2 linked regions of the Homo sapiens genome follow. The protein of the gene in region 2 purifies or fractionates together with the protein of the main gene of each other region. This does not show direct contact. Each region holds a gene or a part of one and is shown on either strand. Other genes may lie near its edges. The genes, in order: ZHX1 and LHX9.

What was found.
Region 1: the proteins of LHX9 (region 2) and ZHX1 purify together in Homo sapiens (affinity purification with mass spectrometry; 3 studies listed by BioGRID and IntAct, with this or other methods). This does not show direct contact.

What each region holds. Positions count from the first base shown.
Region 1 is NC_000008.11:123,266,489-123,282,195, forward strand, and holds the start of ZHX1 (zinc fingers and homeoboxes protein 1), read right to left. Parts: upstream 7,799-15,707; 5' UTR 7,729-7,798; exon of another isoform or gene 7,634-7,728; intron 899-7,633; 5' UTR 806-898; coding exon of another isoform or gene 785-805; intron 258-784; exon of another isoform or gene 154-257; intron 1-153. Other genes in the region: ZHX1-C8orf76 (zinc fingers and homeoboxes protein 1), read right to left, coding at 785-805. UniProt on the Homo sapiens protein: Acts as a transcriptional repressor. Increases DNMT3B-mediated repressive transcriptional activity when DNMT3B is tethered to DNA. May link molecule between DNMT3B and other co-repressor proteins.
Region 2 is NC_000001.11:197,912,898-197,927,191, reverse strand, and holds the start of LHX9 (LIM/homeobox protein Lhx9), read right to left. Parts: upstream 9,821-14,294; 5' UTR 9,369-9,820; coding exon 9,195-9,368; intron 7,221-9,194; coding exon 7,018-7,220; intron 5,889-7,017; coding exon 5,533-5,888; intron 1-5,532. UniProt on the Homo sapiens protein: Involved in gonadal development.

The sequences.
Region 1 (15,707 bases), on a different chromosome or scaffold from region 2:
CCACATTAATGTTTATCAAATCTTTCCTAGTATTTTCTGGAATCATCTAAAATAACAATAGGACAAATGCTTCTTATAAAAGCCAATTAATTAATCAGATAAAATATAAAAACAATTATGTACAAATACATTCAAATATATATATATTTTTTACGTCACACAGGTAATGTGCCAGTGTCATAACAAGGTTTGAGAAAGGCACATTTCACACATAAGCATGAAAACCCAATCATCACACTTAAGAACTACAAAAGGATCAATATTCAAATATTTAAGTTTTGGTATGGTTAATATAAGTAAGAGTATTTAATTAATATCCTGACTCTTATAATTAACTATTATTAGTAGCCTACGTTTTGAAAATACAGTTTCAGAATTTGTTCTTGTACATCCTGAAGCATTTTTCTGGATATAGGCAAAAGCATAGCAAAATTTCTAGATCAATTTCCCCATACCAAAGGTACATTTTGTCTTGTTTACCTCTGTTATCACAGCACTTGGTATAGTGCCTGACACAGCAGATTTTATCAAATACTAATTTTAAAATCAATTATAAATATACAAGATTTATTATGAAGTATGATGCCGTCTCCTTTTAAATTAAAGCAGTCCTATACTTATAGCTCTTAAAATTTGAAAGTATATTAAAAAAAAGTGTTAAGCATATGTCTGCTGCTTTTTAAGGAAAGCTTTTAAAAACTTTAGACAAATATAGTATCATGGGATCTAAAGTGAGTACATTCAGTATCTGAGTTTTACCATACCAAAACAATGAAACACATACTTGCCACAGCTTCCTTAGCATTCTGTTCTTTGAAATGGAAGGGTATCCCTTCTAGTTAGATGTTTAGCTCAGGCCATCATTACCAACAGGTCCAAAGCAGCAGTCTGTCTTCTCCTACAAAAAAGTCATATTTTATTATTCTAGATATAATTTAGCCTTAGTCAGGAAATTTTTACAATTTAATGCCTTAGCTTTTAATAAATAAATGTAATTTTGAAAAAAAAAGTTTATTCCCTCATCAAAACTTTAAAAGAACCATTTAAATACCAATCCTAATATTGGTAGTAAACACAAAAACTACACATTAAAAAAACTCTATTTATATCATATAGAACAACTAAATAACTATTAGACCATTTTGAATAAAATTTCAAAACGTGAATATATGCCGTCTCTAGTGTGAAAATTGAGATGCAGAAATTGGGAGTTCTTTAAAATGAGTATACCGGCCGGGCGCGGTGGCTCACACCTGTAATCCCAGCACTTCGGGAGGCCAAGGCCGGCGGATCACCTGAGGTTGGGAGTTTGAGACCAGTCTGACCAACAAGGAGAAACCCCGTCTCTACTAAAAATACAAAATTAGCTGGGCGTGGTGGCGCATGCCTGTAATCCCAGCTACTCGGGAAGCTGAGGCAGGAGAATCGCTTGAACCGGGGAGGCAGAGGTTGCAGTGAGCCGAGATTGCGCCATTGCACCCCAGTCTGGGCAACAAGAGCGAAACTCTGACTCTAAATAAATAAATAAATAAATAAGTATACAAAGGTTATGAAGACAATTTAGTTAAACTAAGAAATGGGAGTAGTTGTATATGTTTATGTGTTAGTACATAAACCTAGTGATATTTGTATCCTAATTTATTATGTTAATCAGAATGGAGAGGATTATTAATGCTGACAACACAAGCCAAAACAAGTTAAACAAACTAGTAGTACTTGATCTACAAACATGGGGTTATCTAACAAAATGACTGGTGTTTAGCCATGTCGTTTTTGCCTGAAAGCTACTACCAAATGGCTTTACAATCAGTGCACTGTGAAGTATTAACATCATGCAATCAAATAAACAGAAAATAATTCTCTGAAAATTCAATTACTGTCCAAATATGTTGTTGTATATAATCTAGATCAGTTAAACCCATCAGAAAAGTTTAATAAAGCTACAATTGCTTTTCTTACTAGAACAGTCATAAATAACACTTTTGAAGGGTTAAAGCATTTTGGTTGTATTCTTTTTTTTTTGAGATGGAGTCTCACTGTGTCGCCCAGCTGGAGTGCAGTGGCGCAATATCGAATCACTGCAATCTCCGACTCCCTGGTTCAAGCGATTCTCCTGCCTCAGCCTCCCGAGTAGCTGGGATTACAGGCACACGCCACCACACCCAACTAATTTTTGTATTTTTAGTAGAGACAGGGTTTCACCATGTTGGCCAGGATGGTCTCTATCTCCTGAGCTCAAGTGATCTGCCCGCCTTGGCCTCCCAAAGTGCTGGGATTACAGGCATGATCCCTAACCGGCCTTTTGTTGTATTCTTTAAGCACTATTCTCTGTAAACTATAATGAATAAATATTAAGGAAGAGTATTTTCCCAATTAACCTTATTTTTTTATTCCTGCTACTATTACATACAAGTTTATGAAGAAACTTCTCACATCAAGAAATAATGTAAATACACCAGTCCTTTAGTAAAATACCTCTAGGTTAGGTTAAAACTTAGGCTGAATAAGTACACTATTTTCATGAAAAGCAAAAGAGCATTTTCCTGGTAGGCCCAGTGGAGCATCTTATTATCTCTGTAGCCTGGGACTCTACAGTTTCATTTCCTGGTATCTCCTTGTTCCGCCACTCGTTAGCCATCAATCTACAGGATGTGGACTAGAAGAGAAGATAGGAAACAGCTGCCAAAGAGGGAAGGTTATTTTCCAAAATGAATTATTAATACTTTAGGAATCTGGTAACCTACTTCAATCCATTCTTAAAATCACACAGTAATTGCAAGATATTTTACCGAATGAGTCTCTTGAGAAGAGCTGCCAAGACATGTAAAGGCACCAGGATACCAGAGGAGCAAAAATGAGCTCATCAGTGCTTTTGAATGAAAATCCTAGTTGCCTGATGTTATTTAAGTTCCTGATACTGGGATTACTTTAGAACATTTCTATCTAATTCAAAGTATTTTTCTTAATTTAGTATGAGTGAATTCCAAAAATTAAAGAGCTCATCTCAGCTATGTACATTATATAATAAAACAGAACAAGCTGTTCTGGTAGTAGATGGATTACAAAAAAAGACTGAGAGCTTGGAATTTGGAACAGACTGGGTTCAAATACAGCATGCCACTTACTAGCTGTGTGACTTTAGAAAAATGGCTTAGCCTATCTGTGCCTCAGCCCCATCATCTATAAATGGGACTGGTAATATTAATAGGATACTATTTACTTAATAGGGTTGTTGTGAGGATTGGAATAGGTAACACGTGTAAAGTTTCTGGAATATTCCTTGGTACTTAGAACACAATGAATGTTAGCAAAGAAATCTTTCTTTAAAATTTGCTAACTGTTGACAAGTGATAAAATACTTTAAGAATCTGGGTAACAACCAACCAACAAAATTTATTTGCCATTTCATACCTCTGAGCATATTAAATCATGCTGGAACAAGTTGGCTTCAAAAGGCAGATACTAATCAATCAAATTTAACCTCTCCCCCCACAAACTTTTTCTGACCTTAGCTTCAAAATAAATCATTACTGTATGACATATTTAAGGGGTATTTCATAGAACTAGCAAACATCTGATATAAGTAATTTTATCATAGTAACGAGGAGAAATTGTTCTCATGATCTTCCCCACTCCCAAGTATAGCCCATGTCTAGCAAAATTTTAACAAACTTCTTTTTAAGAATATTGATGGTAAAAGAGAATAAACTTAGAAGAAAAATATAATTATTAGTTTAGTGCTTAGAAATATCAGAACCTCCTATCTTCTTTCATTTCTCACTAAAAAACAAAAAAGGAAAAGACTTTTAAGAAGGGGAAAAAGGAAGTTAGAAATCTTGAGAAATAGGAAATCACCAAAATTTAATGAAAGAGTTATTTTATTTACAATAATATATGATATGGCTATGACTTCGATATTTTAATTTTGTTAAGATAAATTCTGATAATATTTTTTAAAATCTAAAACTAAGAACTGAAAATTAAAATCTTGCATTAAAAATGATTTATTTGGCTGAGTGCAGTGGCTCACACCTGTAATCCCAGCATGTTGGGAGGCCAAGGCAGAAGGATTGCTTGAGGCCAGGAGTTTGAGACCAGCTAGGGCAACACAGTAAGACCCTATCTCTACAAAAAAAAAAATTAAAAATTAGCCGGGCGTGGGTGACACATGACTGTAGTCCTAGCTACTCAAGAGGCTGAGGAGAAAGGATCGCTTGAGCACAGGAGTTTGAGGGTGCAGTGAGCCATGATCATGCCACTGCACTCCAGCCTGGGCCACAGAATGAGACCCCGTCTCAAAAAAAAAAAAAAAAAAATGTATTCAACTGGCTCCCTTGAATAAACATAATTCTTAAACTGCTCATATATACTTATTTTACAAAGTATATCATCACATTTGTTTAGACCAAAGGTATACAGTCTTACCTCTTAAGTTGGAAACTGATTGTATAAAATGCCAAGATTAAGTATCTTTTAAGATCAAAACCTGGCAACTACATACAAAGTTACATATTAATATTTACTTTAAGAATATCCTGTATAAAATGCAGATCTCCAAAATGTAAACTCAAATGTATATTCTGATTAATAATCTAAGTCAGCAACTTTAGTCATGCAAATCTGGTTATTGATGACTACAAATATATCAGAGCAACAAGGATACAATAAAATTTATCAATAATAGTATAGAAACATTGGCTCTTATTCTAAAGATAGTATCAGTTTTAAAAACAGAACTATAACTTACTTTTGAAACTACGTAGGATTATTTAAAAGGATTTTAAGTTCAAAAAATTTAGTCTTAACAGTAAATGTGCTTATCACAACATAAATAAATATTTATAATGATTTAAAAAATGTGTATTACTGGCTAGCACCATAAACAGTACAATAGATAATTCCAAAAATCTCTCTGAATAATTGCACTGACTATGATATTAGATTAAAAACTAGGTGCTGAACTTTCAACACTGTTTATTTAAGTAAAGTCTTTGGGCCCAAATCCACAATGCTGCAACACAAATAAAAGGGTTATTTCCTCAGCTACATTTGTGATCATTTTAATAATTTTAAAAGCATTTTCATTTAAGTATTAAGTTATAATTTACAGCAAACTAAGTCTCAAATATCACATTTTATGCTTAATTAGCATAAGAAATATAATACATCATAATATAACCTTTCCATCTTAATATAAAATATAATAATACAAAAGGGAGAAAAATCTTCAAAATGAACCACCTCTCCTATGCTATTAATTTCGCTAATAACTGTAAAACTTTGTCCCCAATTATTGAAAAAAAAAGAACTTACAATTATCATTAAAGGTGAAATAATTGCTACATCATGCATGAACTACCCCCCAAATCCGGTGAAATAATAAGCTTAGCTATAAAGGAAAGAAATCCACTAATGAGTGTTCACTAGCACAGGCACATTTATGTTTTCGGATTTAGCATATTTTCAAACCATCTGGCATTAATGCCTCTCTGGTTCACCCAGCCTAATCTGTTCAGAATTGAATATAAAACCAGAGCTACATGAACATTGAGGAAACCAAAGAACAGCACACGTGCATAAAATGTTCCAAATGTAAAGTTCTAAACTAGTTTCTATTTGAACTGTATCTTTAAAACATTTCCATTGAAGACGTTAAAGCTCTTTCGAAAATACAAGAATGGTTCAAGAAATCTCTATGAATCATCACTATCATCAGTTACCCAAGTATTACCCTTTCTCATTTTAATCCTGATTGTCAAATAAGGCGTCTGAAGAGGTACTTCAACAAAAAAGATTCATTGATAACTGAAATGCTATCATTTTATATCGAAAAGGTCCACGATTATACATTTTACTTTGTATAAAATTAGTCTGCTTAGCCTTAACATGCTTTGGGAAAGGAGAGAAAAGCTAAAAGGAAAAAAATATTCATGAAAGCCCTTTTTCTTTTATGTCCTGTTACCGCATTATTGTCATTGGCAGCACTCACATTTCTTTTGCTTAAAATCAGGAGTCAGAATTGCTACTTTAGAAATTAAAATAATCGATGGGTATACTAGGGCCAATTTCCCTGTTAAAACCAACTCCTGCTCACCTTCGCTCCCGACATAAAAACAAATGACTTTTTCAGAATAATTTTTCAGAAACGAAGATAATTAATGTAGCACCATATAACACAAATTAAAGCTTTCAGACAAAGACTGAGAAACAATGACCAACACCAGCAAATCTAAAGTGCTCTTATATATGTATACACACAACACACACACACACCCCAAACCAAATATTCACTGTTCCTGGGGGGAGACTGCTTCTTCCTCCCTAACCGTGAACCGCTGTATATTTTCCAATTTTGTGATTTTCCTTTTTCTGCTATCACATTAACCTCCAAGAGAACTGCTTAAGTTACATGGAATCCCAACCTAATCACATCACGACTTCTCTCTCAGCCTTTACATTTTTCTCTCAAATATTAGCTCTTCGCATTTTTTTTTTTTTCTAATAGCTGGGCTGAGTTGACAGAAAAGGGCTGTGGAATTCCTGCTCTGTCCGATATCTTCCCTGTATTCCTCTTTTCTCATCCCTAGTCTCTGTTCTAATTCCCCCGCCTGCTGTCTCTCATTGACGCCTTCCCAGCTGCTGGATCCTTCACTAACCTAAGCTAAGGATATCAAATGGAATCTTTTCCTTCTCAGGGGCTATGCTCTTTCCTTACAGTTACCCACGGAGGAGAGAGGACAGGAAAGGTACTAAAACAAAGAATTGCCAAGTCCCTTTACCTCCAACTTTGGTGTAAATATATAAGGAAAGGGGATCTGCCAGGGCTCTTCTTTCCTGCCCTTAGACCTTGTTCCTCTCACACCTCTCCTTCCCAGCCTTTTATACCCCTTGAGGTATTAGTAGATTGTTCACTGTGGGCCCTAAGGCTTGGAGGATTCCCATGGGTCAGCCCCCACACCCCCACGCCCCTACCATCCTCTTTAATTAACTTCTCCCTAAATCCCAGGGCTTCGTCACAATCGTAATATGGTTCTTAAGGACTCAACTCCCAGTCTTTCCCAAAGTTGGGACATGGCCTGGCCCCGAAACGGGTGCGCATAGCCTTCCTTGAACTGGAGGTAAAGACTTCTCCTGAAGGGTTTGCTGGGGCTCCAACCTCAGTCAGTGCGCTCAGCTCCAGCAAGAGAATCTCTCCTTACTCTCAGGGAGACTGGGTCCCCCACGAGGCAGCCACACGCCCCCGGAGGACAGCGCTCCTGACCTCCTCTAGGACTCCCAACATTACTGGGGTGCTCCCTCCGGCGGCGCCCTCCGCTGGGAATACGCAGTCTTCACTCCTCTCAACAATCCTAAGTTGCTGGGTCCTCACCAAGGCAGGGGGCTGAGATGTTCCCTCCAGAGAGCCCCCCGCCCCCAAGCTCTTTCGGTGGCGGAGACACCCAAAAAGAGCGAGGGAGGCTGTGGGTCTGTCTGTCCCTCTGCGGCGACTACCCAGCCGCGAGGCAGGCCCCGTCCCTCCCCCTCGGACGCCCCACGCCGGGTCCACCCCGCCACCCGCCGCCGCGAGCGGGCTCAGCCCCAGGGGTCTCTGCTGTGAGGCTGCCCTCCTCCCGCCAGGCCCCGCGCTACTCGCCTTTCCCGTGCCGGCCGCGGACTCTGCGCTCCAGTTCCCACCCGCAGCCCAGAGTCTCCGGGCCCGCTGGTCGCGGAGCCGGCTCGCGCCACTACCTGCAGGGGCCGCCGCGCCTCTCAGCGCCACGCCGCCGCCATCTTGCATTTCAAACCGGCTGCACTTTTCAGGGAGTCAACTCTGACCTGTGAACCCTAAACCCGGAACCGCTCGGCGGGCCCGCAAAGGGGCCTCAGCAGCTCGGTGGCCCCGCGGAGTGTGGGGACTCAGGGTGGGGGTGCGAGGAGAGGCGCGCGCCCCAGCGGCCGTCCGGGGGCGGAGGGGGAAGGGAGAGAGCCGGCCAAGGCGGGGCCCTCCCGCGCGCGCGTCCTCCGCGCGCCCCCACCCCGTGCGGCGCCGAGCTCTCCACGCCCAGACCCTGCTACTCCACTGGGGTCCGACCCCGGCCCCTAGTCCGGGGATTGGCGCACCGCGGGAGGTAGGGAGGCGCCCCGCCCCCCTGTCAACAGAAGCCCCGCCCCAGACTGCGGAAGCTCCGCCCCCTGTCAGGAGACGCCCCGCCTTCCCAGGGCTCGAAATGGCCCCGCCCTTTGCCTGCGACCGCTCCGCCCGCTGTGGACTGAAGCCTGGTCTTCTCTCGGGTCAGCACAGAAGGCAGCCCCGCCTTCCTTGCGCTCCGCCTTCCTAATGTCACTGCTGGATCGTGAGAGGTAAGCATGCTGGCTTCTACTGAAACGCCCCTTGTCATCACACGCCCATCCCCTGGGGCGACACGACCCAGGCCCCGCCCCTCGGGGGGCTGCTGCGAGTCCGGCCGGGAGCCCAGCGCCCTGACAGAAGTCGCCGCGCCCCTTGTCAGCGGCAGCTCCACCTCTCCTCGCTTCGGACCCCGCTCCTCCGCGGGCCGCAGCTCCACCCGCTGACACCGAAAGTTCAGTTCAGCTGCACTCAGAACCGCCGGGCAAGGCGGAGCCGCCCTCTGCCCCTCAGCCGCCCTCCTCCCTGCGAACCGCCACTCGCTCTTCCAGAGGCTTCTGTCCGAGTCGAGGGCTTCACATCCCGTCGGCTTTCAGGGAACCAGCCCCGCAGCGGGGCCAGCGAGGGCCAGGGGTTTCGGGAACACTGCCCGGCGTCTCCGCCCCTCCCTACTCACTTTCCCTTTCCCCCGCACCGCGGTCAGAACGTGGAGGAACAGAACCAAAGCGGAGAGCGGCGACTCACCCTCCAGCTGCTCCACACGCCGGGCCTTGGACGCTCGAGCGCTCCTGGGCCCCTTGACGTTCACTCCCCACCCCCATCCCAGTCGCGGACCCTTTGTGCAGAGCTCCGCTGAGCCACAGTAATCCTAAAAGCACAGCAGAGCTCCGCTGAGCCACATTAATCCTAAAAGATGCAATTGCTTCAAGTGGAAGTCTGATTTTTTTTTTTTTTTTGAGACGGAGTCTCGCGTTGTCGCTTAGGCTGAAGTGAAATGGCGCGATCTCTGCTCACTGCAACCTCTGCCTCCCGGGTTCAAGCGATTCTCCTGCCTCAGCCTCCCGAGTAGTTGGGATTACAGGGGCCCGTCACCTAACGCCGGGGTAATTTTTGTATTTTTGGTAGAGACAGGGTTTCGCCATGTTGGCCAGGCTGGTCTTGAACCCCTGAACTCAAGTGATCCGCCAGCCTCGGCCTCCCAAAGTATTGGGATTACAGGAGTGAGCCACCGCGCCTGGCCGTGGAATCTGATCGTTGAAATCAGTGTTCTACAATATTCTTTTTATTTGTAGGTTTCATCCTGGAATCCTAAAACTTGTGTAGGATAAGGCTTAATTTTATAAGCAAAGGTATTCAACCCTGCCACATTCAATGCCCTGTATTTACAACAAAAAATATAACACTGCTTTACTCTTCTGGAGTTAAATTCCTAATGCAAACTATCTCTACAAATAATTTCAAGAAACCAATGTAATGTTCTAATAAAGGTGAAAAAGGAGAAAGTAGTTCATAATAAAATACTGTATGTACTAATATCAAGAAAAATTTTAAAATAACAGAGTTTTCACAATGTAAATACTCTGCCACCAATAGAATGCAAAACAAAAACTGTCCCGGCAAAATTTCAGTATGCCCCTGAGGGGCAGTACTGCCCTCGCTGGGAACCTCTTTAGACCGAGGAAGAGGTCTGGAAATGCTTCAAATAGAGAAATTCATTCTTTTGTCTACACAGTTAATGACAAGTTTTCTTTTGTTGTTGTTGTTGTTGTTGTTTTTGAGACGGAGTCTCGCTCTGTTGCCCAGGCTGGAGTGAAATGGTGCGATTTCGGCTCACTGCAACCTCTGCCTCCTGGGTTCAAGTCATTCTTCTGCCTCAGCCTCTTGAGTAGGTGGGATTACAGGCGCGTGCCACCACACCCGGCTAATTTTTGTATTTTTAGTACAAACGGGGTTTCACCATGTTGGTCAGGCTGGTTGCGAACTCCTAACCTCGTGATCCGCCCTCCTTGGCCTCCCAAAGTTCTGGCATTACAGGTGTGAGCCACCACACCCGGCCGATGACTAGGTTTTGTGTGTGCCAGTATATGCCAGGCACTGTGGGAGATGTACAGCTGAGTTAGTCAACTTTCCTGTCTTCCAGGAACTTACAATCAAGTAGCCAAGCAAAAAACAGGAGCATAAAGATGTGTCAAGTGAAAGATGAGAAGAGACCCCTTTAGGGATGTGGAGCTGTTGACTGTAACTTCACATTTTACCCCCACTTCCTCCCTCACTTTATTCTTCCTTCTCCTCTTCTACTTTAGCACTAGTTTATAGAGTCACCTCCTCCTCCCTATAAGCTGTCTCCCTGGTTCACTGCCCAATGCCAGCCATCCAGAATTCTCCCAGTTTAGGGTCATGCCCACAGGGCAATTCTGTCCAAGAAAACACAGTGCTGAGAACAATGTCCTTAGCTGAATTGCTGCCAATTACTTGGTATCCTTCTACAAAGCAAGACTGTTATCATCACCACTCAAAAAAAAAAACTGGTTGCAGACTTAAGCAATATGAATATATGTTTAGCATAGCAGATTGTGCCAGCCCACATAAATCTGCTTAGAGATCAGGCTCACAGAGTAACTTGTTTTTATTAAAATAAATTCATTTATAAAAATTGTAAATATGATGGATTTTAACAGCTGCGTGGCTCCAGGAGTTTTTTTTTTTAACCATGGATTGGCACAATTAGAAGTCTAGATTTTTTTTATGCATATGTTTTGCAGTTTGTCATACTCAAACTGGTATGGCAAAACTTCAGTACTCTTAGAGATAGAAGTTGTTCAGCAGGTTTTAAAAAGCACAGCACTTTTGCTATTCAGAGCCTCTTCCACCTTTGGAACAGTGAAAAAAAAATATTGGTAGGAAATGAAGAGCTTTGGATAAAAAGTTCTAAGCTCTGGTGTCATCTGAAGAGGAATAGGCTTCCAACAGCACTTTTTGTAGTAGTTCCCTTCTGTTATTATTTTTCCTTTTTCCACTTTTTGTGAAAAAGTCTTTTTAAAAACATGATACCATGAAATAGACCAGCCAAAAAGACATCAAACTAAGACACTTTAAACTTTTGACTACAGTTAGGTGAACTTAAGAATTTAGCCCTAGTGAAGTGCTCCCACTATTTTCTGTAATGGCTACATTAGAAGGTGAACAAAAATGTTCCTACTAAAACTAGTTCAGGCTGAATAAACTTTCTAAGACAGTTTAGGGGTCAAGCCATTTCCTGTTTCTCTTAGTGCTTGCTCTGTGAAAATAATAATGTTATTGGTAATAACAACAGTAAAAACAAGTCAATATTCTTGGTACTTGTAAAATTCCTTCCCACTCCACTCTTTCCCTCTACTTCTAGCATAGGACCATATATAGTACTACAGGACTATAGATGCAAAACAAGAAAAACAGAGAGGAAAACTGATTTTCCAGTATTCATTCAAAGAGTAACACATTGATACACTTTATATTTTAATCATAGTGTCATCTGGGTTGATTCATTCATTGGTGTGTAACTCTATATCCACCAAAACTTAGTGTCTTGGCCAGGCAGGGTGCCTCACGCCTGTAATCCCAGCACTTTGGGAGGCTGAGGCAGGTGGATCACAAGGTCAGGAGATCGAGACCATCCTGGCCAACATGGTGAAACCCTGTCTGTACTAAAAATACAAAAATTAGCCGAGCGTGGTGGCATGTGCCTATAGTCCCAGCTACTCAGGAGGCTGAGGCAGGAGAATCGCTTGAACCTGGGAGGCAGAGGCCGCAGTGAGCCAAGAGCGCACCACTGCACTCCAGCCTGGGTGACAGAGCAAGACTCTGTCTCAAACAAACAAACAACCAAAAAAACCTTAGTGGCTGTATCAGCATGACTTCTAAGGAAAAAGTGGCAGTATCTATTTTTTAACATAAAAATGTAGCATACAAATAACCCTAGGGAACACTCCTCCACTAGAAAGCAATGCTAGAGTGAGAAAATGCAATAATTCACTGTGTTTCAGTCTTTGCAGAGAAGTCTAAGTAGCAGTCCTTAAACTTTAATGTTCATGAAAATTATGGAGAACTTTCTTTAAAAATAGATTCTCAGACCCCACTCCTGGAAGAGTCTAATTCAGTGGGTCTGGGACGAGGCCATGAATCTGCATTTGACATGCAGCTGCAGACTTTGAGAAATACTCGTCTAAACAAACGCTTATAATTAAGGAAAAATTTCTTGTAGAAATAACTAAGGGTTACAAGCTACAAAAACTCTGAAAAGAAATACCATTCCTAAAATTGTCAGTTACATGGACATCAACACTGGGAAGGAAATGCCTTCAGTCAATAAGAACTTTCGGACCCATTGCAGACTTTCCATATTCTAGGAAAGGTCACAGCTCATTAAACTCTGAGCACTTTAGATATGTTATCCCATTATACCCTCCTAGTATCTCTGTGAGATTGTGGGTATTGTTTGCAGTTAACATATGAGGAAGCTAAAGTTTGGAGAGATTAACCTACCCAGGATAAGTAAGCTGGATTTTGAATCCATCCTGACCAGTCCTAAATCCTAATAAAGATGTTACATACACTGCTTCTAAGAAAGAAGGCATTGCATTAGCCAAGCTACAGTGTGCACTGGATTTGAGAGCATTCACTGTCATTGAAGTCAGATGGTCACTGTCAAATCCCAGATTCTCTGCCACTTGCTAACGGTATCAAGAAGTACAAACCCACCACAATTTAGTGGCTTAAAAAATGAAGCAATTAGTTACCTCAGAGGTCTGTGGGTCAGCTGGTTGAGTCTGCTAATCTGGGTAGTTCTGAACTGGAGCAGGTTTGGCTGATCTCGGCTGGACTTGCTCAGGCATCTGTGGTCAGCAGGTGGGCTGTCTGGGGGCTGCCTGGTCTCGGACAGCTGCATTCATATATCCAGGGGCTGGCTTATGCAGGACAGCTTCAGCCACACATTCAGTGGATGGCTGGCTGTTGATCACAGCAGGAACTGGGCCACTTTGTCTCATCTTCCAGTAGAATAGCCTGGACTCATTCACAAGCAGCCACAGTGTTCCAAGAAAGCCAGAAGCAGCCTTTAAGATCTCTTGAAGCCTAGGCTCAGAGCTGACATAACTGTCATTTCTGCCACATTTTGCTGGCCAAAGCCAATCACAGAGCCAGCCCTGATTCCACCTCCTTTTTTTTTTTAGAGAGAGAGACAGGGTCTTGCTGTTGCCCAGGTTGAAGTGCAGTGGCACAATCATAGCTCACTGCAGCCTTGAACTCCTGGGCTCAAGGCATCCTACTGCCTCAACCTCCCGTGTAGCTAGGACTACAGGCGTGCACTGCCATTTTCCGCTTGATCCCACCTCTTGAAAGCAGCTGCAAAGTCACATTGCAAAGGATGAGGCTACAGGAACGGCAAATAATTGTGGCCATTTCTGTCATTGAGTTACCACACTATGTGACTGAAGGCAGGTTTCTTAACCTGTCTATGTTTTCACTCATCTGTAAAATGAAGATAACATTACAATTGTTGTGTCCTATATCAAAGGGTTAATAGTTGATGAAAAGTTACCTTAACTTCCCAGAAAATATCAGCCTGATGATGCTCTCTATGGTCTTTCCAGCCTGAAAGTCTTATGAATTTGCATGGAAGAGAGACCAGGCTGATTTATGTGGCTCCTCAGGGAAGGACGTTAGCCCTGATTTTCTTACTCTTGATTTCATACTGTTCAGTCAACATAGTTCTGGTTGTGAGGTACCGAAACTCTCTTAAGCTAGCTCAATCCAGGAACGAAAGCTACTCTTTGACCCTGCAGGTCTACTCCATCGTCTCCTCTCTTGACTCCCTTTTTTAAAATTTTTTTTTTTTTTGAGACAGAGTTTCACTCTTTTTGCCCAGGCTGGAATGCAGTGGCGCAATCTCGGCTCACGGCAACGTCCGCCTCCCAGGTTCAAGCGATTCTCCTGCCTCAGCCTCCTCAGTAGCTGGGATTACAGGCATGGGCCACCATGCCCTGCTAATTTTGTATTCTTAGTAGAGATGGGGTTTCTCCATGTTGGTCAGGCTGGTCTCGAACTCCCGACCTCATGTGATCCATCCACCTCGGCCTCCCAAAGTGCTGGGATTACAGTCATGAGCCACCGCGCCTGGCCTCTTGACTCCTTTTAAGTCTCCTCGAGAACATGGCCTGGCTAAGTAGCCTCAGCCAAGGAGTCCAACATGACTGTTGAGCTCTGTTCATTAGAGTTAATGCCCCAATTCCCAAATCTAAAGAGAGAACCTGATTGGTCCAGCACATTTCTTCTTAAAAGGTCAGCTTAGTGCAATCTGCCAGGTTAGGAGGGGAAGCCAGTCTTGTGGGGAAAGAGCAGTTTTACTTGGGCAGCAGAGGCTGTAAGCAACGACGGTTCCTTCAGAAGATGGCTGTGAGCCAGCAAAGACAACGCTTTACATCTCCTGGACATATGTCGCCTTCTCTACAATTTGAGTTTACCTTTCCATCAAATAGTGAAAGGACTCAATTTCAAGGACCTTATAAAATCCATCTCCTCTCTGTACATTTCTTTTTTTTTTTTTTTTTGCGACAAAGTCCGGCTCTGTCACCCAGGCTGGAGTGCAGTGGCGCAATCTCGGCTTACTGCAAGCTCCGCCTCCCAGGTTCACACCATTCTCCTGCCTCAGCCTCCCAAGTAGCTGGGACCACAGGCGCCCGCCACTATGCCTGGCTAATTTTTGTATTTTTAGTAGAGACGGGGTTTCACCGTGTTAGCCAGAATGGTCTCAATCTCCTGACCTTGTGATCTGCGCGCCTCGGCCTCCCAAAGTTCTGGGAATACAGGGGTGAGCCACTGCGCCTAGCCAGGGTTGGGGTTTCTTCTGAGGGCTATCAGGGAAGGATCTTTTCCATGCCTGTCTCCTTGACTTGCAGATGGCCATCTTCTCCCTGCGTCTCCACATCATCTTCCCTCTGTATATGTTGGTGTTCAAATTTGCTCTCCTTATAAGGACACCAGTACACAGGATTAGGATCTACCCTCCTGACGTCATTTTAAATGACCTCTGCAAAGACCCTGTGTCCAACCTTGGTCACGTTCTAAGGCGCTGGGAGTTAGGGCTTTAACATATGAATTCTGAGGGAGTCACAATTCAGCCCATAGTAGGAGGAAAACAGTAATCATTATAAACTACAAAATGCAAGTAGTATCTCAGCCTGTTCTTTCCTGGGCTTATCCACAGTTCTGCATTTCCGAATGTCTTTCAGTCCCTAAGAATATTCAGTAACTACTTACTGACTCTCTGTGGTTTGTAATTTTTTAAAGTTCCGAGTCTATGAAAAGGGTGGTCATACTGGCTACTTTTTGAAGGCTTTTTATATTATGGCGAGTTTATCTTATGTTTAATCAAATAGCATTTTGTTTCCACATTGCCAAAGGCAATGGTTTTCAGCTAGACAATAGAATCACCTGGTGTTTTCTGAAAACATCTATTTTTTATTGGTCTATTCAAAGAAAAAAAAAAAATCTGCACCCCAGCTCTACCCCCCCGAAGATTCTGATTTATTCAGTTTATGGTGAGATATAGGCACTCTTTTGTTTT
Region 2 (14,294 bases):
TCTACCTTTTGTCTATATTTCTGGAATGAGACACACTGTCTGAAGGTATTGCTTTTTGTCATGAGACGTAGAGAAACAAGTATTACTACTCCCTCAAGTCTGAAAGTTTCTGAGAGCCCACCAACTAAGGAAGCATCTAGGTCAATTCTAAGGGTTAGCCTTTTCTCATATTCCTAGAGCTCCGTCAGTCAGGAAAAAGTTAGAAAAGGCTGAAAAAGGAGGAGAAGTTAGAAATTCAAAATTTGTGAATTTCTTATGTAAACATAAGAATATTATTTGTTTCAGCTTTTAGCTATGACTGGTTAACACAGGGCTATACCAGAAAGAAAATATTTTTCCCCTGGAGTGATTTTAATAAATATTTCTGAAAGAGAATGAGCCCAGACTTCCCTTCACACGGTTCACGCCTGAAGCGCTCCCCACAGCTCACAGTTGAGAGATACTGATGGTGCTTATTTCTAGGCTCAGATCTTAGTCCCTTTTGCTCCAGATGTGTGTGAGTGGGATGTGAGCTGTGCCCCTGGCTGGCCTGGCAGAGAGAGGGCGGCATTTTCTCTTCCCTTACAAAGACTTTCTTAGCACCAAGGGCAAAACAACCCAGTCTTTGAAACCAGCCAGAAAGTCATTATCCCCAGGATGTAAAGCTACACTTTTAAAGGGTCATTTCCAAGAATCTACTGGCTCTGCATAGGAAATACAATTGTAAAATGAAAACATTTTGTGAAATATTTACACAACCAACTTCAGCCAACTTCACAAATTAAAGAGCATGGTAATTTTTTTTCTTTAAATTCTTCCTTCAGATAGTTATATAAATTTAGATCTGATCATCCTGCCTTGTACTGCTTTATAATAGAAAATCTAAAACCAACCTGATCATGTCATTCCAGGGAGAAAGAAACCTGAATCTTAAAAAAGGGAGGCATCCCTTAATGTGAGCTCTTCCAATCTGCTTAATAAAATGTTCTGCTTAATACAATGTTATCTGCCTGCTAGGCTCTGTTTAGAATTACTTTTTAAAAAATATTCAGCAAATCAGCATATTTACAGAAATACAGAAGTTTTGTAGTCATCACCCAAGAAGGCAGCCACATATAAAACTCACTTAACAAGAAATTCTTCCTAATGTAAAAAGACTAGACACAAACAAATGTCTCCTTTGTTTGTATTTCCATAAGACGCATAAGTAGGAGGACACACTTGGCAAAAGAACAGGTGAGTTCATTGAGGGAACTGACTATACCATATTCAACTTTGAATTGATTCCCTGAGTCAAACACAGGGGTAGGAGCTCAAGAAGCATTCAATCAAGATGTTGGGCCCTTTGTTCATCAGTAAATTACAAGTGAGTATTAATGCGAAATTAAATCAACTTGAAGTGGAATCCAAGTCAGATATATACATTCGAATGTAAAACATAGGCTTCCTAAACTCCACCAGAAAGGCTACCATATGTCCAGAGATAACAGAAAGAGTATGCATTACATTTTATCCTATTTTGGCCCAGTGGGGATATGTCAAGTTCAAATATTCTACAGAATTGCACTTTCATATCCTCAAATGGATGAAACAGCATCTCTATGACCTACTATAAAACTATACTTATCTCCAGTAAACTCAGCCATATTTCATAACCAGATTATAAATATACCCACAAAAAATAGTCAAAGGGGCACATGTTAGTCATCGGAGGGTTCTTCAACTCAGATTTCTTTCCTATCATATGTAACATGTAACCTTTCCTGAACAATACATCAAATTGAATTTCACACTTGGGACAGAGGACTTGGTGTTTAAATAATGCCCTTGGCCATCTTTCCCCCACTCCACACCAAGGTAATATATAGAAATGAATATGATTCCCAACCTGACTATATAATCATTAGTTCTTAAAATGAAATTTATGAAAAATAATTGTAGTAAGATTTAATGAAATGGCTTCCCTTAAAACGCATTCTATATCCATTATTGCTGATTAAAAACTCAGCAGAGCCTTTTAGTGTGTAAAATACAGTTATAGGCCCTGTTTCCACATAAAATACACAATCCAATATGTAAGGAGATAGCTCGTTGGGTCTTTATTAAACAGATATTACTATATATGATTTTCCTGTGACTGTTATCTCATATTATGCAACTTAATAGAGAAAGCTATTTCTTCTACAGAGTAACAGTGCATTATCTGATATTATTTATGTTTAACTACACATGCATTATATAAACTTGCAAATGACTGTTTCTCCAAGGCCTATTGCTAAAGCTGTAGGGGATTCCCCCACTCCCCGAATTATGAGATGAAATGATAACTCTTAAAACTGTCTTAAATATCTACCTGTCAGTTCACATCCAGTATTATAAGTTAATGAGAAGATCTAAGTATTTTATTTCCAGTCACTTATGCGATGGGCACCCATCCTAAAGTGAGTGTCGCTGTGAAGGTATGTAACCTTCTGAGAATGAAGTGATCCCTGGAAGACCACTAGGGGTCAGTGCCAGGCTAATTTAACCACCAGGAGCCTTAAAAGTTTGGATAGGAAGAAAGGGCTTAAGGAAAGGATATTTTGAGAAGTGGCAAAAGTTTAATCTCTCAATTAATGTTTAAATTACACAAATAAGAGCTTCCTATCCTAAACTAAATCTTCTTCTCATCCCTAGAGGGCTTTATTTCAAGCTAGCATTTCAGGTAAACTTTCCATGTCTCTTTCTAAAATATTTGCCTGATTAATTTGCACAGAGGTATAAACAAAACTAGGGACATTCTCATTAAAAGGCATTTGCCCTATCAAGCACTAGCTGGCCTTTGCCAAGTTTCACATCTTCTCTGAGATTCTTTGAATCACAAACATGTTTTCTGCACATTTTGAAAACATATTGTGTAAATTATACTTAGTTTAGTATCAACCTTACCCTTTATGAGACTTGTTTACATTTAATGTTTACATTTAATGAAAGATAGCAAGACAAAATCCAAAGAAGGCTAAAATAACGAGTTAAAACTGGATTTATTTTATTTTTTTACATTTTAACGCGTGTTTAATTTGCTGAAGGGTTTCTTTCCCTAGTTTTGGAACAAAGTGGCATCAGATTCGCAAGCACTGTTTTAAATGATGGCCTGATTTCTGGTCAGGCATCTTCAAACCAATTCCCATAGATAATTTTAACCTGATCTTTAAAATATATATACTATTGAATAGTATCTCTGGGAAAAGTCCAGAAAGGATGGAGTAGATGTTAACTAAGAGGCATCCAGTTTGTAGTGGTGCGAGGTACAAACTCTTCGGGCTAAGGGGGCCTAAGCAATTTTTCCCTCCTTTGGGACCAAGACAAAAGCGACCTTCTCCACAACAACTTGTAGCAGCATTAATCTGCAAACTAAAGACCTAAGTGGCTCAGAAGGATTCTTTTATTCTTCTTAAAAATAAATTTGTACTCTCTAGTTATTTTCAGAGAAGTAAAAGAATCTAAATTCTACTGTTCTTAAAGCTCCTTGGATCTAACATGAAGATCCAAGGCGAAATCAAATTTAGCAAATTAGATTAAATAAACAATCAAAAAGTCAGGCTTGCCTACTATTTGGCTAGAAATCTTCACCCTTCTGGACTTTATCCGGGCTGAGAGATCCTTTCTTTCAAAAAAAAACTCACTAGTTTATGTATGAGTGGCTTGCTTTCTCTCTCTCTCTCTCTCTCTCTCTCTGGGAATTAGGGCCTTGGTGAGTGGCTTGAGATTCCAATGTCACCTTCTATTAATAAAGAACAATTAGTGCCCTGCCTGCCCTGCCCCGGGGACCACGCATCAAAGAAGATGAAGTAAGCATGCTGGGCAAAGTGGCCCCTAACCAAATCTCCTGCCCCAGCACAGCAGGGGCCAGTGTGAGGGCATGGCCACTACTGAGGGTTGCCAAAACCCGGGGCTTCGCCCGCTGCCCTCACACAGATTGACCGACCCTGGTGAGATTTGCAGTGAGCCGGCAGGTCCTTTTCTTTTCGTCCAGCAGCCCTGGTATGAACCCCCTAGGGACAAGTGCTGCCGCACAGTGTTCCTCATTGCTCCCCATTCTCCCTGCAAGGCCACCCGCTGTGCTTGCCCATAAAGGATTCTCCTCTTCAGTTAGATCAGTCGGTAGAGAACCCCAGGAGAGAGCCCAACGGAGGTCTGAGAGAGCGGCCACTCATCCTGTGTGGGTTCCCCTGAAAACTCTAAACTCAGAGCAGGACTCTTAGCTTCACATTCACACTGGCTGTGTGATCTTGGGCAAATCACTTAACTGGCTGGACACTGTTCTTTACCATTGACTAGCAATGTCAGGCACCATACCAGGCCCTGGGAACTGGAAGAGAAAAACAGGCAAGATCCCATGCTCTGAGATGCCCATGCTTGGTATCTGGGGGCATTCATAGTAATAGAGTGGGGTTGCCATAATAAGGTCCTCAAGGTTCCTTCCAACAGAATGGTCTCCCCTGTCCTGAGTCTGCTGAGATTCTCAGCCACATGTGGGCCAGGGCACTGAAAGCCAAAGCAGTTAAGGTCCTTAGGCTCCCCAAAAGTGCGCCAGGGCTTTCTACAACCTCTTTTTTTCCAGTGATTGGGACTCACAAGAATAGCTTCTGTTCTGCTCAGAGTTAGATTATCATCTGCAGAGCCGATCACCATCCTCACCTGGAGGATGGGGAGTGGGGGCAGGCTACCAACAATGGGAAACTGCTGCATGTGAGAGATTGATACATGATAGGCGTGTCCCCCAAAGCAAGGAAGAATGTGTTCTTGACTTGTTGTCTGCATGTTGTTTTTAATGAAGAGAGAAGGTGGTTGAGTATAGATGAATGGCCTGAGATACCACTAAGCCTCTTCAGGAGGCCTGACCTGGAGGTACTTTCAGTTCCAGGGGTCTGGATGTCTGGATGGTCTATCACACCGGGAATGAGACGGCTGGTTGAATATCCTGGCTTAGGAAAGACACAGGCTAGCTCAGCTGTGGAGAGTGATTCCCACCCCTACAACTGCTTTTTGCCAAGATCAGGGATTAGGTTTTTCAACACTCTTGCCAACTGTGTTCCTGATTAACTTTGGGCTGGTGACCACAGCCTCTGACCCCTCTAGACAGACTAGGGTTGGGCTCTGTAGACTTTTTTTTTTTTCTTCAGTATTTAGGAAACCTCCTACAGGATCTATAATTTGGCCTCCACAAAGAAATTGCCCTGGGGCTGTTTTGCTCCAACTGAGAGCCAGAAACTAATGGGCTCATTAACTAATGGGCAACAAGGATTTGGCTCTGCCTGTTTGGGGAAAGTCACTACAGCCCCATAGTTATGAATGTGTTTTTTGCCACAACCTAAATAAAGTGCTGCCTCTCCCTCCCTTCCCCCCTCCTCCTCCCTCTCTCCCTTCCTTCAGAGTGAGAGGGAGTTGCAGTGAGAACAGAGGCATTGGGCAAAACACACTCTTGCAGCAAGACTTTGGACGGGGAAGGAGCTCTACGAATTTTCCTCAGGGAGGCCGGGGCTGCGCCGGGGGTGAGGATAGGAGGCACACCTGAGTTGTAATTGACGATGTCCACTCCCAGCGCTGGGCTCTTCCGCTTCCGGGGCCGCCCTTTCTGCACGGTGCCCGTACCGTTGAAGTAAGGCAGGGCCAGGCCGCCGCTCTTGGCCGCCAGCTCCGTGTAGCTCAGCTGCGGTGGATACTCTCCTTGCAAGAGGGTCTCGAAGTGGGCGCGGCAGTACACCAGGCTGTCCTTCATGCCGAAATGGTCGCCCGTGGTCAGAGTCTTGTTGCAAGTGGAGCAGGTGAAGCAGCTCAGGTGGTAGACAGAGTCTCGGGCGCGCATGACCATCTCCGAGGCGGAAATGCCAAGGTGGCAGCGGGCACATCTCTGCACAGAGAACCTTCTGGAAGGAAAGAGTTGAGTCAGGGCGCTAGTTGAAGCAAGGCAGAGCCATATCCCACCCGCGACACCTGGGTTTGGTCTGCAGTGGCCTGAGACTGGGACCTGGGAGGGTTCCAGGGGGACAGGAGAGTAGGCATTAATTTTATTTGCTCATCGACCTTTTCTGATAAACCAAGACAAAGGATCTTTACATTAAAGTCAGAAGAATCGGGCAACTAAGCCTTAGTTTTCTTCTCTGCAAAGTGAAAATTTAAAACATTAAAAAAAATTTAAAAAAGCAAACCACTAGTTAGCACTAGCTAACTCACGGTACTAGAATATTAAATTGCCATGCCAAGTGAAAACACTTAATCAATTACAAAACATATGAATGAAAGAAGATATAATTATTCCTGGATGTGCGCGGGTGTGGGAAAGCATGCGGACACAGTCCTGGAAGATGACGATTTTGTAAAGGAAAGGTTATTATTTTTTTAACAACTTATCTTGCTTGGGCTGAGAGCGGAACTAGGTCACCTGCACTTAGTCCTGTCTTTCCCAATCCAGAAACATAACTGAGAAGAATCAATAAAGACGCCTGCTGCTGATTTTCTCCAATCTGGGGGGCATGGTTGTAACTAGCGATAAAAGGAACCCGGAACTGAGTGGCTTGGGTTTTGGCAATGGCATTTATTCCTTTTCATAGTCATTTACAGAGTCTCCTGCCACCTACGAAAACCTAACACTCTGTTGCTGCTGCCCGAGCCACTAGTTCAGTTTCAAGGCGCAGAACTTGCCCAATTCGTAGCAAGCGGAAAACAAACACCCAATCAAGTCTCGGTAGACGGAGACCACGTCCATTTACTCTTCCCCAGATTTCCCCAAGTTCCGCCAGCCAAGCTGAGAAGTGATGGGAGTGCGTGGTATTCGCTGATAAAGCTCTAGATTTTTAATGTCCCTCCCACCCACCCTCACCGTCGGTCAGGGAGATTACAGCTTGAAGGCATATGCAGTGGGTTTGCCTGGTCTCCGAAATGATAACAGCACCCGGAATGGGGCAAAAGGTAGGGGACGGAGAGGGGATTCCGGGCTCAGGCAGATGGCCCCTCCAGGTGTACTCGGGCGTAGGAAGTGGGGGTGTAGGGGAGTACCTGTAGTAATCCTCCTTGCAGTAAATGCTACCGTCCTTGGCAAAGCAGGTGAGCTCGGACTCGAGGGCCAGCTTACATTCACAGCACTTCAGGCATCTCAGATGCCACTGTTTGTCCACAGCCAGCAGATAGTACCTGTCCGAGATCTTGCCCCCGCAGCCGGCGCACAGGGCGGGCTTCTCCGGGCTGAGCGGGGGCATGCCCTGCAAAGAAAGCACACCGCAAGGCTGAGGAGGGCGCGCGGTGTAGCCGCACGACGCGGGGTTCTCCCCCAGGCAGACCAAGCCCAGGGTGTGCAGGGAGAGCGGCAGGGGCCAGGGTCCACTGCACAAAGGCAAAAGTCAGGGGAAACATTTGTGATTTCTCTCTTTGCGGCCCGCTTGCTTTCTTCCGTGTCTGCCTGAACCGGCGTTCGCGTCCTCCCGGGACTACTAACCTAAAGACATCCCAGCCATCCGGAGCCTCGCTTAAAAAGGACTAGGAAAATATTGACTACAGTTTGGTGATCGTTTCCGAATTCAAATAATTACAAGCTAAAAATTGTGGTTTTCGACGCACACAAAATAAAACAACGGAAATGATAAGGGAGTGAAAAGGAAATTTCAACGAGCACAGGTTATTTTTAAACAAAAAATATTACAGTTCGATTTCTCTAAATTCTTATAAGCAGCATTGAAATCAAAAGCAAAGGGGAGATTATTGGACCTCTGCTCATAATTTGGTCGACTTTGTTTTGATTGAGATATATTTGGCAGCCCCTGCTGTTCCCTAATTTTCAGGGCTATTGGTGCCGTTCCCAATAAATGTGTAAAGTGGCTGTTCCCAAAGAGGGTCCGCTGTCCAGCCCGCTGTATACAGTCCCCTCTTTCCCTAGCATCAACAGGCGTACTGAGACCTTTGTCTTGAAAATCTGTTTAGTGCCCAAGTTATGCTTCCCTCTGGGTCCCACTGACCCGACTCGGGATGCCCCAGTGGCCCCACCTTGAGGAGCCCAGCCCCGCTGCAAAATTTGGGTTTGGGTTGCTACTATTTGTTTTTAAAAGTGATGACCAGAAAAAGGGAAAAGGAGTTAACCTCCGGACATTTCCCTCACGACTAGCAGAAATGGGTTGATCTTCCCCACGAAACTTCAGCGGGCCTGAAAAAGTAAAGTTTAGCCCTTTACTCCGACCAGGGGCCCCGGCACTGAATGAGTGTTACAAATATAGACACGTTCACCAGTTGGGCTACTTGGCCGGACCCAAAACCCAGCTGATAAGGGCTAGAGCAGTCTCCTGATTAGTTTGGGCTACAAGTCCTACTGTGGTACCAAAGGATCTACACAGCTATGTTTGGCCGAAATAATTTCCGGAGACTTCTGTAGTCCCCCCCCCCCCCCGTTAGTAATCTGGAAAGGGAAGCGCTTAGATAAGTAATTAGTTTTCTTTATTAAGAGGACATGACTTTATTATTATGGATAGTAGAAACAGTGGTGGTTGATTAGCTTGTTTAAGGGTTGGTTATAAAGTTCATGCGTTTCGACTGGGTGCCGCGCTCCTCCGTATGTTTTATTTGATTTCCCCCTACACATGACACCCGCCGGGTCCTGGCGCTAAACGTAGTGCTGTCTCCTTAGAGGGACTGAGTCGGGATGCCAGAAACCCTGAGATTCTCTCGGTTAGGGGTCCCAAGCCCCGAGCGTCTAGAGAACTGGAAATGACCCAGTCGCGTCGGAATCTACTCCACAGGTCCGGTCATCAGGCCCAGAGACTAAGGCCACCTGGGCTCCTGCTTGGCTCGGACGCCTCGGCAGCGCGCCGTCCTCCTATTGCTTATGCCCAGCTTGCCCTCGGAGCTGCGGATCCTCGCCGGGGAGACGCCTGCCCCGGAATCAAGGGAACCTTGAGGTCTGTAGAAGAGAATGCCACCACCCCCCATCCCACCTCCTCCCAGTTCCTCTCCCTGCTCTTTCGGAATCAGCTGCGACGGAGGATAGCCAGCTGCAGACATTTCGATTCAGAAAAACGACCGTTTCTTAGCCCTGTAGGCATAGGTGGACGGGAGAAAACTCACCCGCCACCCTCAAGCGGACGTCTCTACGACCCGCCGCTCCGGTTCTCCACCGGCCAGGGAGTCGGCTTGGTTTAACAGAGGGCGCAGGGGTGCCCGGCTACCGCCGCGGCGGAGCCCTTCCTTACCGCGTCGCGGCCGTTGAGCTGGGCGCCTTTGGCCAGACGGGCCTCAGTCTTGGATCTGCGCTCCATCTCCTCCATGATGCCTTGGATGTGGCCTCCGGAGATCCCGTGAAAGAGCATGGCTGGGGGGCGGAAAGGACACGAGTTGTCTTCTGCTCGGCACCCCACTATTTCCATATACACACGCCCGGGGCTTTCAGCTCATCCGAGTGAAGGAGGCAAGGGACCAGAGAGGGCTGCCCTGTAGGAGCGCAGAGACGCTCGAGGATGGAGGGAAAGAGGGAGAGAAAGGAGGAGAAGAAACAGATGGAGTGGAAATCGGTCTGCTTGGGGGGCCGAGGGGAAGCAAAAAGAACTGGGAAGAGTTGGGGGGAAGCCTCAGCGGCTCCCTGAAGGAGATGTGCAGAAAACAAACAATTCGGGCGGAGGGAAAAAGAGGCGTAGAAGGCGAATCTTACTGCTCTGAGAGATCGAGTTACTAATGGGAAACAACTGCAGCGGGGGGAGGAAAACAAAATCTGGTGAAGAAAGAAAATAGTTTTGAACACAAAGAAAGAAAAAGACGTGCTATTTTCAGCGTTCCCTGGCTGCTTGCAAGTTCCCAGTGCCTGTAGATTGGGTTGGGGACTGCTCCTGCCTGAGCTGTGTCCAATTTGTTAAGAGACTAAAGCCAGCCCATTTTTGATAATTTAGTAGGAGGAGTTCTCTCCCCGGAGCTGCCACGGATTTTTATTCAGACAACAAAGACCTGTCATACTCCTCTCAACCCCCTGGTGATGGGCAAGCAGGACAAACATTACAAAGGGGTGGGGGGATAGAGAGCGGGGAGGCAGGAGGAGGGGGCATTTACCTCCCCACAAAACACACACACGCGCGCGCGCGCGCACACACACACACACACACACACACATCCTTCCAAGAGTTCCCAGCAGTCATGTTTTAAAGGGGAAAAGGAGCTCTTGTTGTCCCCGCCCTGTTGCAGAAGGCCTAGAACCCGCCTATTTGATCCGAGTTCAAGATCAGACCTTGGCTCAGGACACAGAGAATATCAACTTCAAACTTTGGATTTCCTCCTTGTGGACTTTTTCATCCCCAGCCTGCAGGACTGTCACCCGAAATGCATAAATATTGAGCAGAAATGTAAGCAATTTACTGAGGTGGAGATAATGCTGGTTCCTCTCCTCCCCATCCCATCTTCCTCAATCCACTTTTAAAAGCAGCTGTCTGACAATTCATCTCTTTGCCTCACCTTCTTGAGGGCCGGAGACCCTACTAGATGCTGGCTTCATCCGAAGTGGAGAGGGCGTTTGGAGCGTCTGCATTTCTCAGGGTTACTTTTGGCAAAACAATTTTCTTTGAGAAAATTAGAGTGTAGGGGACAGGGCATGGACCTGTACACACGGGTACGCAATTGCGCCTTGGCCATAGGGCGGCTTATTCTCTTCCCCGGTTCAGGTTTGAAGGAAGGTTGCCGGAGATTCTAATGTCTCATTTGAAGCTTGCCAATATAGGAAGCGACTTGCGGACTCCCGGGAGCTTGGCGCCTGCCCCCGCAGGACTGGGCGCTAGCCCCATCGCGTGCTTCTCCCACTACCCTGGCAGGACAGAGGACTTGTAAAACTGGGCGCACCCGCACACTCAGAAGGGTGTGAAAGGGACTCTTTGCCGTGGAGGAGGGGAAGGTGAGAACTGACAAGCAGAATGGCAGACCTGCTCCTCACAAGAGGTGGGATTGTTCTGTCGCCCTCAGTTCTCGGCAGCGGCGGCCCCTCCCCGGCCCCATTAAAAAGTGTCCACAATACTCTGATATTGTCGATTCATTCAAACGGCCAGAGGCCCCCTAGGAGTCCGAAGCACAGCGCTGCGGCAGGAACCAACGCGGCTTTACCCAGAGAGGAGGACGCGCCGGCCGCTCTCTGTTCCTTCCGTCCCCTTCGTCAGCCTGCGTTCCCCACTACTTCCCGCCGCCTTTCCCAGGACTGCGGTGCCTGTGTCCTGGCACATCCTAGATACCTCACAAGAGCCGCCCGGCCGCAGACCCGCTTCCCTCCGCCCGGGGGAGCCCGACCGGGAACTGTGGCCAAAGCTAGAAAGATGACGGGAGAAAAGCCAGGGAGAGAGGGAGAGAGGGAAGAAGGAAAGAAAAAAAGAAGTGAGAGGATGAGAAGAAGGGGAAGGAAGGAAGGCAGAAATAAAGCGAGAGAGGAAACGACCCCTGGTGCAGCAGCCTGACTTCCTGTCCCAAAGCGTTGTCTTCTGAGGCTCCTGGAGTGACCTCTTCCATGAAACTGAAGACACTACTGCTTCCCCTCCTTTTTTCTCAGGGTCAAAAATAATGTTATTTGCAGACTGGACGCAGTTTAAGTCCTCCGGGTGCCAAAATGCAGCTCATAAAACGCAATTTCACACAAAAATGAAGCCAATCAAGTGAACTAAGCTGGAGACATCCCCCTCCTCCTTACTTTGGCAGCTATACCTGACAGCAGGGCTGCTATTTACTGTAAGTAATGTAATTAGCCCCTTTGGATGGGAATCAATGAGCTTTTCAAACCCACGTGCACACAAGAAGGGCCCTGAGGAGGGGCTGGGGGCAGCAGTCCTTTCAGAGACAGCAGGTCCTCTCACAAAAGGGCAGATTGCCTTCACACAAGTCAGAGGCTAAACTGGCTCAGAGCTGGAGGAGGAGAGGGAGAAAGAGGAGGAGGAGGAGGAGTCTCTGAGAAGTCCCCTCAGTCAATTCACCCAAGGAAGCTCCAAGCAAAAAGTAAATACAGGACTTCAACCTACTTTGTCTAGTTTCTGTGCTAAAACCTCTCCCAACCCCCAAATGGGGGTGTTTGAAATTAGGTTTGGTTCTTGTTGCATATTGCCCCTGCTCAGCAAAATCAACAATGAAGAACCCAAGAATACCACTGCTTCCTTGCAAGAGATAAAACTTTGGAGACTGCATGCAGGGAAAGTTAAACAACTCCAGGAAAAAGCCAGAACTTTACAGCGTCTCCAGGGAAGCCAAACACAGAGGTTTTGTAAGCCCTCCAATCATCCATTCATTCTTCTATTCCACACAAGTTTGTTAATCATCTAGGTACAGGCAAGGCAGAACACCTTCTGCAATCAGTTTCCAAGTTGAATCCTAGCTATTCCTGCTCTTATAAAACTCAGGTTATAAGTTCCTGCATCCAGTGGCATTTGCTACTTCCTGTAAAGAAGCAAACTGCCAGGATTCTTCCTTCTCAGTGAACGCAGGAAGTCTGGAGAAAGCTGGGGGTGGGGTGGGGGTCAGCTGGAGTTTGGGAGGTCCTTGTTAGCTCTGCGGAAATACGTCCCCATGGGTCCAGCCCTGCCTTCTCTCACAGTTCCTAAGGAGGAAGCCCAGGAAGGGTGGGAAGGAATGCCCTCGAATTGGGTGTGTGACCCTGGGTTTTCTACTCTTTTTGTCTTGGAGCCCCCAAGAAAGATTGCCTAAGAGCTCCCCGCTCCTCATTCTCAAAGGACTTTAAATAAGCACTTTAAATAAGGAAAGCATCTTTGTACCTCTGCTTTCTTTCACCTCTCCAGCAGAGGGGCTGAGGCCCGGTGGCTGGGGACAAAAAAAAAAATGTTCCCCCTTCTCCCAGCTGTAGTCTGAATGGCCCGCAAGTGTTCCATAAAAATTACAGTGTTCATTTTTTCAGTTCCTGAGCTGAGGGACAGGTGCATGTGGTTCTCTCTAGCCTGCGTCGGGGATAAGATCTTAAGTCTCCTCTAAATTCAAAGTTCTACCAGGTATAATGGGGCAGGTCCCTTGACCAGCACTGCTCTCCCTCACAATTGAGCACACGCAGTCCACTAAGCTTTCTTTCCTTTCTATTCTGACAGCACCCATCCCGCTACTGTTGCCGCTTTTAGGAAAGTGGACGGCCGGACTATAGTGGAGCATAATAGTTGGAACTGAGAGTTCGGGATCTTAGAATCTCTATGAAGGTCAAAAAGACTGCAGCGCCCTTGTCGCCGGCTCAGGTGGGTCTACATGGGCAAAGAACCCGAGCCCAGTAGAATTCCCTAGGGGGGAGGAAAGGGAAATTAAACCCACAGAACAGTTAGGGTTGAGAGGGAAGAAGTAACCCAACAAATGTGCATATTTTGAGAGCAAAGGTGACTTAAGGTCTCTCTCTACCTGAATTTTGGAGGCCATGATTCTGCGCCTCTAAGTTTGCCCTTTAAGAAGGAGGCGTTACCTTTCCTCCAGACCCTGTTAAGCTGGTTAAGGAGCCCCTTCGGTTTGAAAGGCGCGGCTCTTAAAACAGTATCCAGCGTCTGGCACTGTCCTGAGCACCCAAGGCCCAGTGAAACGTCAGCGTCAGCCTGAGGCTGGGAACCATGCGTTCAGTGCCGCGCCACCTGGCCCTGGATGCCCGGGCTGCGCTGGATGGAAGGTGAGCGGATTGCCGGGACACGCTGGGGCCTTTCTCCAGACAGTGGAGACTGAGATACTCCATGTGGAAAATTTCCCCCTACACTGAGGTTGGCAGATCCATACTGGGGCTGCTGCACGGGCGCACTTCTGATTCAGTCCTACTAGGGGATCCTCCCTCAAGACAAATGGGAGTCAGCCAAGCAGAGCTGGGATACGGGGAGTTCGGCTGCCTGGAAAGGGGTACCCGAGGCCACGCTCCAGCTGCGCACCCTTGCCAGCCTTTCGCTGGGCGGTACTTCCCGGCCAAGGCCCTGCCCTTTCGCGCGTTCTCTGCCTACCCTCACCCTTCGCGACAAAAAAAAAACCTCTCGCCAGCTTTTGCTTCCTTCAAACCTCTGTTCTCTATAGCCCCTGGGCTCTTCTCCCCAAAGGGGCCTGCGCCAAGTCTAGAATACAGCTCTTCTGAAATCTGATGCTCTTTTACCTGAGATTTGTTGCGCCGCCTGCCCTCAGCTCTGCAGAAATAAAGGGAGAAGTCCCGCACTGCGTCCGCTGAGATCAGGCGCAGAAACGGCTGCGCTGGGTTAGGACTGAACAACAACAAAAAAATGTGGGTGAAGCCAGTTTCCAGTTAACCCCTACACGTGTGAGAAACAGTGTCTTCTCGGCCCCCCTTCCATCCCTTCCAAGAAAGAGACACCCCCAGC